Homo sapiens: one gene and its partners. The protein of the gene in region 3 purifies or fractionates together with the protein of the main gene of each other region. This does not show direct contact. Each region holds a gene or a part of one and is shown on either strand. Other genes may lie near its edges.

What was found.
Region 1: the proteins of REEP3 (region 3) and RAB3GAP2 purify together in Homo sapiens (affinity purification with mass spectrometry; one large-scale study listed by BioGRID and IntAct). This does not show direct contact.
Region 2: the proteins of REEP3 (region 3) and ZC3H11A purify together in Homo sapiens (co-immunoprecipitation; one large-scale study listed by IntAct). This does not show direct contact.

Annotation. Positions count from the first base shown.
Region 1 is NC_000001.11:220,147,788-220,150,607, forward strand, and holds the end of RAB3GAP2 (rab3 GTPase-activating protein non-catalytic subunit), read right to left. Parts: 3' UTR 506-2,820; downstream 1-505. UniProt on the Homo sapiens protein: Regulatory subunit of the Rab3 GTPase-activating (Rab3GAP) complex composed of RAB3GAP1 and RAB3GAP2, which has GTPase-activating protein (GAP) activity towards various Rab3 subfamily members (RAB3A, RAB3B, RAB3C and RAB3D), RAB5A and RAB43, and guanine nucleotide exchange factor (GEF) activity towards RAB18.
Region 2 is NC_000001.11:203,840,584-203,844,242, reverse strand, and holds part of ZC3H11A (zinc finger CCCH domain-containing protein 11A), read right to left. Parts: intron 1-3,659. UniProt on the Homo sapiens protein: Through its association with TREX complex components, may participate in the export and post-transcriptional coordination of selected mRNA transcripts, including those required to maintain the metabolic processes in embryonic cells.
Region 3 is NC_000010.11:63,594,355-63,598,013, forward strand, and holds part of REEP3 (receptor expression-enhancing protein 3), read left to right. Parts: intron 1-423; coding exon 424-500; intron 501-1,649; exon of another isoform or gene 1,650-1,742; intron 1,743-3,659. UniProt on the Homo sapiens protein: Microtubule-binding protein required to ensure proper cell division and nuclear envelope reassembly by sequestering the endoplasmic reticulum away from chromosomes during mitosis.

The DNA of each region.
Region 1 (2,820 bases), on a different chromosome or scaffold from region 3:
AAGTATTTCCTGTAACTATAGAAAGAATTATGTATATATACATGCAGAAATATATATGTGTGTGTGTATCTGTGGATGGATATATGTATATCTCTTCCTATATATATCCATAGTGGACTTATTCAGAACATAGATATGTATTCAGCTTGTCTTCAAATACGGCCAAGCAGAAAATGTTTTATATTTTATAAATCATCTTTTGACTCTGTATTTAAATTCTATGATACTGAAAATAAAGGCATTCTGGAAAAATACTGACTGATTTTGGTGCAGAAGTTTTGAGTATCAAGTAAAAGAAGTATAGTTTTGAAAGGGAATGGCGGAGGCCTGTTTCCCTTAAGAGGTGAAGGGTCATTTCATTCTTCCCATTAGTGAACATCAGCCTTTTCAGAATAGCTAGTTTTTGGGGTTGGATCAGAAAGAATATAATCACCAAATTTGTTACTCAAGAAAGGAAGAAATCTCTTAATAGTTAGTTATACTTATGAATGTTTAGGAAACAACATGAAAGCTGAAAATTTATTTCACTAATATACATAAGAAGTTCACAACAATGAACAGACAGAAAATAGCAGTATATACAGAATTTCACTACTTACAGTACATTACAATAGAGAAAGCATTTTATAAACAGTTCAGTATTGGATTAAAATCTTTTAAGGATGGCTAATTCTATTCAGCAGGAATCTAACTTCTAGACACCCAGCAAACCCATTCCTATCAGGGTGAGAGAGGGCTTTTGCTGTTGCTATAGTGTACTGTAAAAATATTTGTTCCTTATAAATGAAGTGGACCACAGCAACTTCTAAATGAACATTATATTCAGTGTAAGTCTCATATTATTAAATTTCAGATTTTTGACTTTTTAGATCGCAATTGTTTTTAAAAAGCAATTTAAATGTAACAGTGTTTACTTTGACCATAGATGAAGTTTTATAATAAAAGTAAAACTTTTTTTTTCTGTTTGCAAAAGTATGAAGCATTAAGAAGCATGGTGCTATATATCTCTTTATCTACATTTACCCTGGCCCCTCTAGTTCTGCATCTAAACAGAACCTGTAATGTAGAAGTTATGATTATTTGAACACTTTTTGTTTTCCTTCAGCATTATACAATATAATTTAATAAGATACAAATGCATATTTAATGTTTGTTAATGAAGAAAGTTGTGTGAGGGTGGGCATATATCTAGGAAAACACTACTGGTTACTGGCTTCTCATCAATAACTACAAAGTACCACATACCTTTGTTTCAGAAACCACCCATTCTACATTAAAATCTAATTCCTTTATCATCTATGGCTCTTTGTTATTATAGAATGTCTACATAGGTATTTATTTGCCTTTCTTCCTATCAATCAGATTTATTTATTTTAAAAGCCCTTGATAAGTAGTAAAATATTTAACTGCTTTTCTTAACCATACAAGTCAGAATTAGATTTTAAAATTCTATGAAAAATTTTAGGATAACAAATCTAACTAGAGACTTAATGATTTGTGTTAGGATTCTGTGAGCCATACTTCAGCTTATTATTGTTCTCAGCAATCCCCAGATTTGATTGTCTGTTCTACCAGAGTAAGCTTAACCAGTTTTATTATCTAAAATGCTTAATAAGTGCCCCCTCCCCGCCAAGTGATGATGGAATTGAGGATTTATTCTTTAAAAATACCTATAACTCCAAGTTTCTTTGACTAGCCTCCTTAAGTTCATACTACTACTTTCAGCGTACTTGGAAAAATCACAGGAAGAACTAATCTCTTAGAAAACATATAACAAGTGACTGTTAACACAGAGCCAGATATGTTTACAAGAATTCTAGGATGTGTGTGGCTGGGGCAGCGGAGACCCAAGCAGAGGCTGGGAGGTTGGACTAGCCCTTTCCAGTGCTGCTACTCTGTAAAATGTATGTCTCAATCAGACTCACAGGCCCCCATCCCAAATACTCAAGACATCTTAACCATTTATCTTGTAAGATTTCAAGTTTGATAGTTACTTAACAGTAATTACTAAATTTTAGCCAGTTAAATTCTTGTTTGGATGTGCTCTTTTAGCTCAAAAAACAGATTTGTTTTTCTTTTTATATCCCTGAAGGACATACTCCTCAACTTTGCATGATTACTATAGTTGGCTTCTTAAGGGGAAGTGAAGAAACAAACTTCTGTATCACAATGACTTACTATGAATAATAATTGTGATCCATGACAGATACCCATAATTACACTGTATGGCTACATTCTAAAAATATACCACAATAAATACTTGGTATTTGTAGAGCTCAAAGCACTCTTTTACAGAGTTTTGGTTAGTTTGGTTTTTTCTTTTTTTTTTTTTTTTCGAGACAGGGTCTTGCTATATTGCCCAGAATGGCCTCAAACTCCTGGGCTCAAGCGATCCTCCTCCAGCCTCCCGAGTAGCTATAGTTTGGTTTTAATCAGTAAATATTTATTTAGCACTTGGACTGCTCTAGGCACTATAGGGTACAAAATTAGTTGTATTTTATCCTCTCATCCCAGCTGTGAGGTAGGTTTGCTAAAGCTGTAATACCACTAAGCAGTTTTTTCAATACTGTTCCCAAGGACAGATAATATTAGCAAATCCCAGAAGCATTTCTAAACACTTGTAGGAAAAATAAAGTCGGACTTAAAATTTTTAGTATCTTTGCCTTTTTTTTTTTTTTTTTTTTACATAAGTTTTACAAGATAATACATTTTTACAGTGACCTGATGTGGATACAACTTTGCAACTTGGCAAAAAGCAAATCTTAACTTACATTATAATTAATTTGCTGCATTTTACACATCTCTGATTCTCAATTTTGG
Region 2 (3,659 bases), on a different chromosome or scaffold from region 3:
TTGCAGTGAGCTGAGATCACGCCACTGCACTCCAGCCTGGATGAGAGTGAGACTCTGTCTCAAACAAAAATAAAAATAAAAAATAAAGGCGGGCACAGTGGCTCACGCCTGTAATCCCAGCACTTTGGGAGGCCAAAGTGGGCAGATCATCTGAGGTCGGGAGTTCGAGACCAGCCTGACCAACATGGAGAAGCCCCGTTTCTACTAAAAATACAAAATTAGCCGGGCGTGGTAGCGCATGCCTGTAATCCCAGCTACTCGGAAGGGTGAGGCAGGAGAATCACTTGAACCTGGGAGGCAGAGGTTGCAGTGAGCCGAGATCGCACCATTGCACTCCAGACTGGGCAACAAGAGCGAAACTCCATCTCAAAAAAAAAGAAGAAATCCCAGGCCGAGAATAAAGAAAAAAAAATAAGAGAACAAAGAAAGTTCTTGAAAAATAAAAACACCAAGTGCCAAAATAAATTCATATGAAGGACTGGATAATAAAGATAAGGCTGGCCCCAAATCAGCCATTTAAAAAGGCATAGGCAAACTATATATAGCCCATATGGCCACCACCTAATTTTGTAAATGAAGTTTTGCTAGAACACACCAGCAGTCATTCATTTACATATTGCATACATATGCATATGGCTGCTTTCATTCTACAATGGCAGAGTGGGGTAGCTGCAATACTGTGGACTGCAAAGTTATTTATATCCGACCCTTTACAGGAAAAAAATTGTCAATTCCTTGTCTAAAAAATAAAGTTGAACAAAGCTCACAGAAGGTTAGCCAAAAACAAAGAAACAAAAAGTATACAGAGACATGCAGGCATATGTCCCAAAGTTCCAACATCTATCTAATACAAATTTCACAAGGAGAAAACAAAAAGAAATGTGGGGCAGTCATACTCAAAAGAAATTAATGTTTTCTAGAGCTAAAGACAAATCTTTAGATTCAAGGGCCCACTGAATCAGTATTTATGTATTTACTGAATCAGTATTTATGATAAATACTGATTATCATAAATACTGATTTAGCAGAATGAACAAAAATGATCCATGTTTGATCCACAACAGTGAACCTGCAGCATACTAGGGAGAGATAAAACCCTAGAAATCTCTGAATAATTCAGGTTGCATACAACAGAATAAGAATGTCCAACATCGGACTCCCTTTTTATGATGCTAATATAACTTTAACATCCAAATGAGATAAGGATGGGGGATAAAAAGTAACCTAAGGTGGCTAACAGCATTCATAAATAGAGATGTAAAAATATAAAATTTTTAAAAGCCTCAAACTGAATTCAGCAAGGTATTAAAAAAAAAAAGACGGAAGGCTGAATACATGGATGTTCATTTTATTATTCCTTAAACTGTACATATATATACTTATGTAGTTATATTTCATAATTTAAAAAATTTAAAAATTATAACACAGAAAGAATATAAAGAAAACCTCAATACCCAGATGACACCAATTTTATTTATATTCTCGTGTATTTTTGAAGATTTTTTTAAAGGTATATGTTTATATCTTTACAAAATTAGAATAATCTCATACATATGCATGTTTCTCCTGAGAATAAGTTTCTATAATAAGAAAATAAACTTAAAAAAAAAAAAAAAAGATTCCCCCTCCCCCTCCCCCTCTCCCCGGTCTCCCTCTGATGCCACCAAAGTTGTGAAAGCCAAGGCTGGACTGTACTGCTGCCATCTCGGCTCACTGCAACCTCCCTGCCTGATTCTCCTGCCTCAGCCTGCAGAGTGCCTGGGATTGCAGGCGCGCGCCGCCACACTTGACTGGTGTTTGCATGTTTTGGTGGAGACGGGGTTTCGCCGTGTTGGCCGGGCTGGTCTCCAGCTCCTGACCGCGAGTGATCTGCCTGCCTCAGCCTCCCGAGGTGCCGGGATTGCAGACGGAGTCTCGCTCACTCAGTGCTCAATGTTGCCCAGGCTGGAGTGCAGTGGCGTGATCTCGGCTTGCTACAACCTCCACCTCCCAGCCGCCTGCCTTGCCTCCCAAAGTGCTGAGATTGCAGCCTCTGCCCGGCCGCCACCCCGTCTGGGAAGTGAGGAGCGTCTCTGCCTGGCCGCCCATCGTCTGGGATGTGAGGAGCCCTTCCGCCCAGCCGCCCAGTCTGGGAAGTGAGGAGCGCCTCTTCCCAGCCGCCATCCCGTCTAGGAAGTGAGGAGTGTCTCTGCCCGGCCGCCCATCGTCTGAGATGTGGGGAGCGCCTCTGCCCTGCCGCCCCGTCTGGGATGTGAGGAGCCCCTCTGCCCAGCCGCGGCCCCGTCTGGGAACTGAGGAGTGTCTCTGCCCGACCGCCACCCCATCTGGGAGGTGAGGAGCGTCTCTGCCCGGCCGCCCCGTCTGAGAAGTGAGGAGCCCCTCCGCCCGGCAGCCGCCCCGTCTGCGAAGTGAGGAGCCCCTCCGCCCGGCAGCCGCCCCGTCCGGGAGGGAGGTGGGGGGCGCCTCCACCCGGCCACTGCCCCGTCTGGGAGGTGGGGGGCGCCTCTGCCCGGCCGCCCTATCTGGGAAGTGAGGAGCCCCTCTGCCCAGCCACCACCCCGTCTGGGAGGTGTACCCAACAGCTCATTGAGAACGGGCCATGATGACAAAGGCGGTTTTGTCGAATAGAAAACGGGGAAATGTGGGGAAAAGAAAGAGAGATCAGATTGTTACTGTGTCTGTGTAGAAAGAAGTAGACATGGGAGACTCCATTTTGTTCTGTACTAAGAAAAATTCTTCTGCCTTGGGATGCTGTTAATCTATAACTTTACTCCCAACCCCGTGCTCTCTGAAACATGTGCTGTGTCCACACAGGGTTAAATTGATTAAGGGCGGTGCAAGATGTGCTTTGTTAAACAGATGCTTGAAGGCAGCATGCTCGTTAAGAGTCATCACCACTCCCTAATCTCAAGTACCCAGGGACACAAACACTGCAGAAGGCCGCAGGGTCCTCTGTCTAGGAAAACCACAGACCCTTGTTCACATGTTTATCTGCTGACCTTCCCTCCACTGTTGTCCTATGACCCTGCCAATCCCCCTCTCCGAGAAACACCCAAGAATGATCAATAAATACTAAAAAAAAAAATAAAAAAAAAAAAAAGATTCTTATGTTGCCCTAAATCAGGAGGTCAAAAGTGGTATGTGCTCTCTGTTATCTTTCTTCACTTGATACAATGCAAGTTGATTTTTCCATATCGTTGTTCAGCATTTGACTTTTCATGACAGCAATTATTTTAGCACATAACTATCATAATTTTATCTAAACCCTTTTTATTGTATATTTAAGTTGTTTCTAATTTCCTACTATTTAGCCGGGTGCGGTGGCTCGTGCCTGTAATCCCAGGATTTTGGGAGGCTGAGGCAGGTGGATCACCTAAGGTCAGGAGTTTGAGACCAGCCTGACCAACATGGTGAAACCCCGTCTCTACTAAAAATACAAATATTAGCAAGGCATGGTGGCGTACGCCTGTAATTCTAGCTACTCGGTAGGCTGAGGCAGGGGAATTGCTTGAACCCAGGAGGTGGAGGTTGCAGTGAGCTGAGACCTTGCCATTTAACTCCAGCCTGGGCAACAAGAGCAAAACTCTGTCTCAAAAATAAATAAAATAAATAAATAAATAAATAAATAAATAAATAATTTCCTACTATTAATGCTATGA
Region 3 (3,659 bases):
TGCACTTCAGCGTACCCTGTCTCTACAAAAAATAAAAATAAATAAATAACTTATAGTCTTCATAAAGAAGCAAGTAGATAACGTCTTTTAAAGAACTTTCTTCCAATTAAGAAAAATATTTCCTGTTTTCCCAATTCCTTGATTTAGATTCCTAGATTATATTGTATCAAGTCCCAGAGATTTGTTAATCTTTGCTCCTGCTATCCCAAGACTGTTGATGTAGTAATGTAAAGAACTCAAACATAAAACCTGTTGAAAATTAAACCATCACTTTCTGCGTTTGACCCAACATACTATGTATCCAGAAATACATACATAATATGAAATTATTATGAAATCCAGAAATACATACATACATACATATTATTCAGAGTTGCAAATAATTTTCATCTGTTGTTTCATGAGTATTTTTATTATTTCCAGGTTCGATGGATGATGTACTGGATTGTTTTTGCTCTCTATACTGTGATTGAAACAGTAGCCGATCAAACAGTTGCTTGGTAAGTTTTACTATTGAGAAGGGGCCAGACTACAGACTCATAATCAGGTGTCCTAAGTTCTTATCCTGCTCTTGCTATTAACTGAGTGATTTTCATCAGGTTACCTAATTATCCACCCATTTGTTTTTGTCATCTGCTTTCCCATAGAACACTACTTTCCTTTTAGTCCCCATCAAATAAAGGCAGCTCATTTTCCTCCCCATACGCCGCTCCCTGCTCACCTCCCACACACCTTCCCCCAGTATCTTGGAATAGGGAAAGTTGATTGTCATCATCCTTTTCTGCACTGATGACTTCAGAACATTTTCCTGTATCACTTCCTAAATGACTCCACTTTTGAAGCCCACAGCATCTGGTTTTAGCACCCCTCCCTATCCTATCCTTAAAACTCTCATCTACAAACATTTGAACTGGAAAACGTCAGCACCCACGTGGACACCCACTCAGCACTAGCTTCCTGGCTGCTCTGTTCCAAATAGACGAGGCAAAATTAAAGTGTGTTTATATCCTCAGGGATTTGACATTTTACCAAGGAGCAGTACTTAACTGGACAACTCAAATCTCCCTGTGGTGTATTTCAGTAGTGCATTTCCATCTAAACCCTGCAATCACTTTGAGAACTTCTCCTTTCAAAATATTTTGGTTTACTACCTTGCTGATATCTTCATCTGCCCTTGACGCACAAACCTTCTGTCTAAATTAGCCTAACAATTACTCGTCTTTTTTTTCTTTTTTTTTTTTATACAAGGTCTTGCTCTGTTGCCTAGGCTAGAGTGCAGTGGCACGATCTCGGCTCACTGCAACCTCTACCTCCCGGGTTCAAGCGATTCTCCTGCCTCAGCCTCCCGAGTAGCTGGGATTACAGGCACATGCCACCATGGCCTGGCTAATTTTTGTATTTTTAATAGAGACGGGGTTTCACCATGTTAGCCAGGCTGGTCTCGAACTCCCAACCTCAGGTGATCTGCCTGCCTCGGTCTCCCGAAGTGCTGGGATTGCAGGCATCAGCCATTGCACCCAGCTAAAATGACTCTTTTTTACTTCTTTAACTGGGCTGCTAAATTCAGCTGAAAAAATTAATCAGCTGCTCACATAGGTATCAGCTTGAACCTCATTCTTTTTACTTGCTCCTGGTCAGTGTCTACTTACATTTTGTCTGGGTCTGTTTCAAACCTTTACTATTCTCTCCTTAAGCTGTCTTTCCCATTTTGCTCTTCTCCTGTTCATGTGGCACATTAGGTCCTATTGGATTTGCAAGAAAAAAAATAGAAGTCTTCATACTAAAATATTTTTAACAACCTTCCCTTATTTGCAAACGTCACTGTATCTGTCTTCTGATTTGAAATACTGTAAAAATTTCCCTTCCTGTGCCCCAAAGCTCATTCATTTATCTGTTATATTTTTGGTATAGGGGTTTGGTTGTGGGGGGTCTCTTTGTTTTTAAGTGACAGAGCACAGATCCCCAACCGTGCTACATCGAAGTTTCCAAGTTCTCTTTTTAAGACTTCATTTTTTTCTGATTGCAAATGTAGCCTATATATGTTATTTAAAAATGAACGATGTAGAAAATGTTTAACATGAACAACTGAATCCAGAAACTCCTGTAATTGCAGTGTGGCAGAGACCTCTTTGTTGACTACATAGTAAGTCATCCTCACTGCTCTCTACCTGCCCACCTTGACAGAAGAACTCAAATTTGCTCAGCTATCATTTATCCTAGTGATAAATGGACTACATTTATGTGGTTCTCACAGACAACAAGATACTGAGCCTCTCATTATATATTAGTGAACTTTTGCTGTGGCAAAAAAACAACCATAAAAGTACAGTGGCTTAGAAAAGCAAACTTTTATTTCTTGCTCAAGCTACATGAGGGCAAATGGTTGACTGCATCTTTGCTGGGGTCAGGTCACTTTTGCTGTTGTTTCTGTTGTTGTTTTAGAGACAGGGTCTTGCTCCATTGCCCAAGCTGGAGTGCAATGGCATGATGATAGCTCACCGCACCCTTGAACTCCTGGGCTGAAGCAATCCTCCCAGTTTGGCCTCCCAAAGTGCTGGGATTACAGGCGTGAGCACCTCACCTGGCACCTTAAACCAAGGCTGAAGAAGCAGCTGTTCTCATGCCAGAAGGCAAAAGCTTAAAGCAAGAGTTTGAGGGTAATGGGTAATGGAGTGAGGGAGTCGAAGGGTGTTCTAAAGCTTCTGCTTGCATGTGACATGTATCATGTTCTTTTCTGCTGGCCAAAGCAAGCAAGTCACATGGTTAAAGCCACAGTCATTGGTTGAGGAAGTATACTGGGCCAACGGGGGAGGCCCACTGTAACACTTTGTATTTTCCTTGGAAGTGAACAGTTTAGGTCTGCAGAGTGCTGCAATTCTGGCCAAATGAAATTGGAAGGGATATTTTTTCGGAGTTCTGAAAAAGATGAAGACGTGTGTGTATGGGGTAGACATTGTGCACTTGGAGCATATGAAGTCATTCTCTGATAGGCACAACTATCATATGAGATAGGTCATGTACTTCCATGCCAGTTTGGCTCTGCAGATAGGGTGGCCATACCTTGTGCACTGGATAAATGGTATTAGTGCCTTCTCTTAACTGCTGCATTCAGTTTGGCAGCTTTCCTATGCTTACTACAAAGGAAGATTCTTGTATTAGAATGAGGGGGGAATCTCTCAGGTCACACATTCATGAACTGATCTATAGTTGAAACAAGATTATTCAAACACAGTTGTCTCCTGATCACTGACTTTTACATTCAAAAACTTAGCATAGGCTGGGTGCTGTGGCTCACGCCTGTAATCCCACCACTTTGGGAGGCCGAGGTGGGCGGATCACATGAGGTCAGGAGTTCAAGACCAGGCCTGGACAACATGGTGAAACCCCGCCTCTACTAAAAATATGAAAATTAGCCAGGAGTGGTGACGTGCACCTGTAATCCTAACTACTGGGGAGGCTGAGGCAGGAGAATCACTTGAACCCAGGAGGCGGAGGTTGCAATGAGCCGAGATGGTGCCATTGCACTCAGATGACAAGAGCAAAACTCCATCTCAAAAAAAAAAAAACAAAAAACAGCATAGTGACTGAACTTTTTAAAAGGTGTTTTTGTGATTTCTACAGTGGTTTGTTTTTCACTGGCAGTTTATTTCCAAATGTTT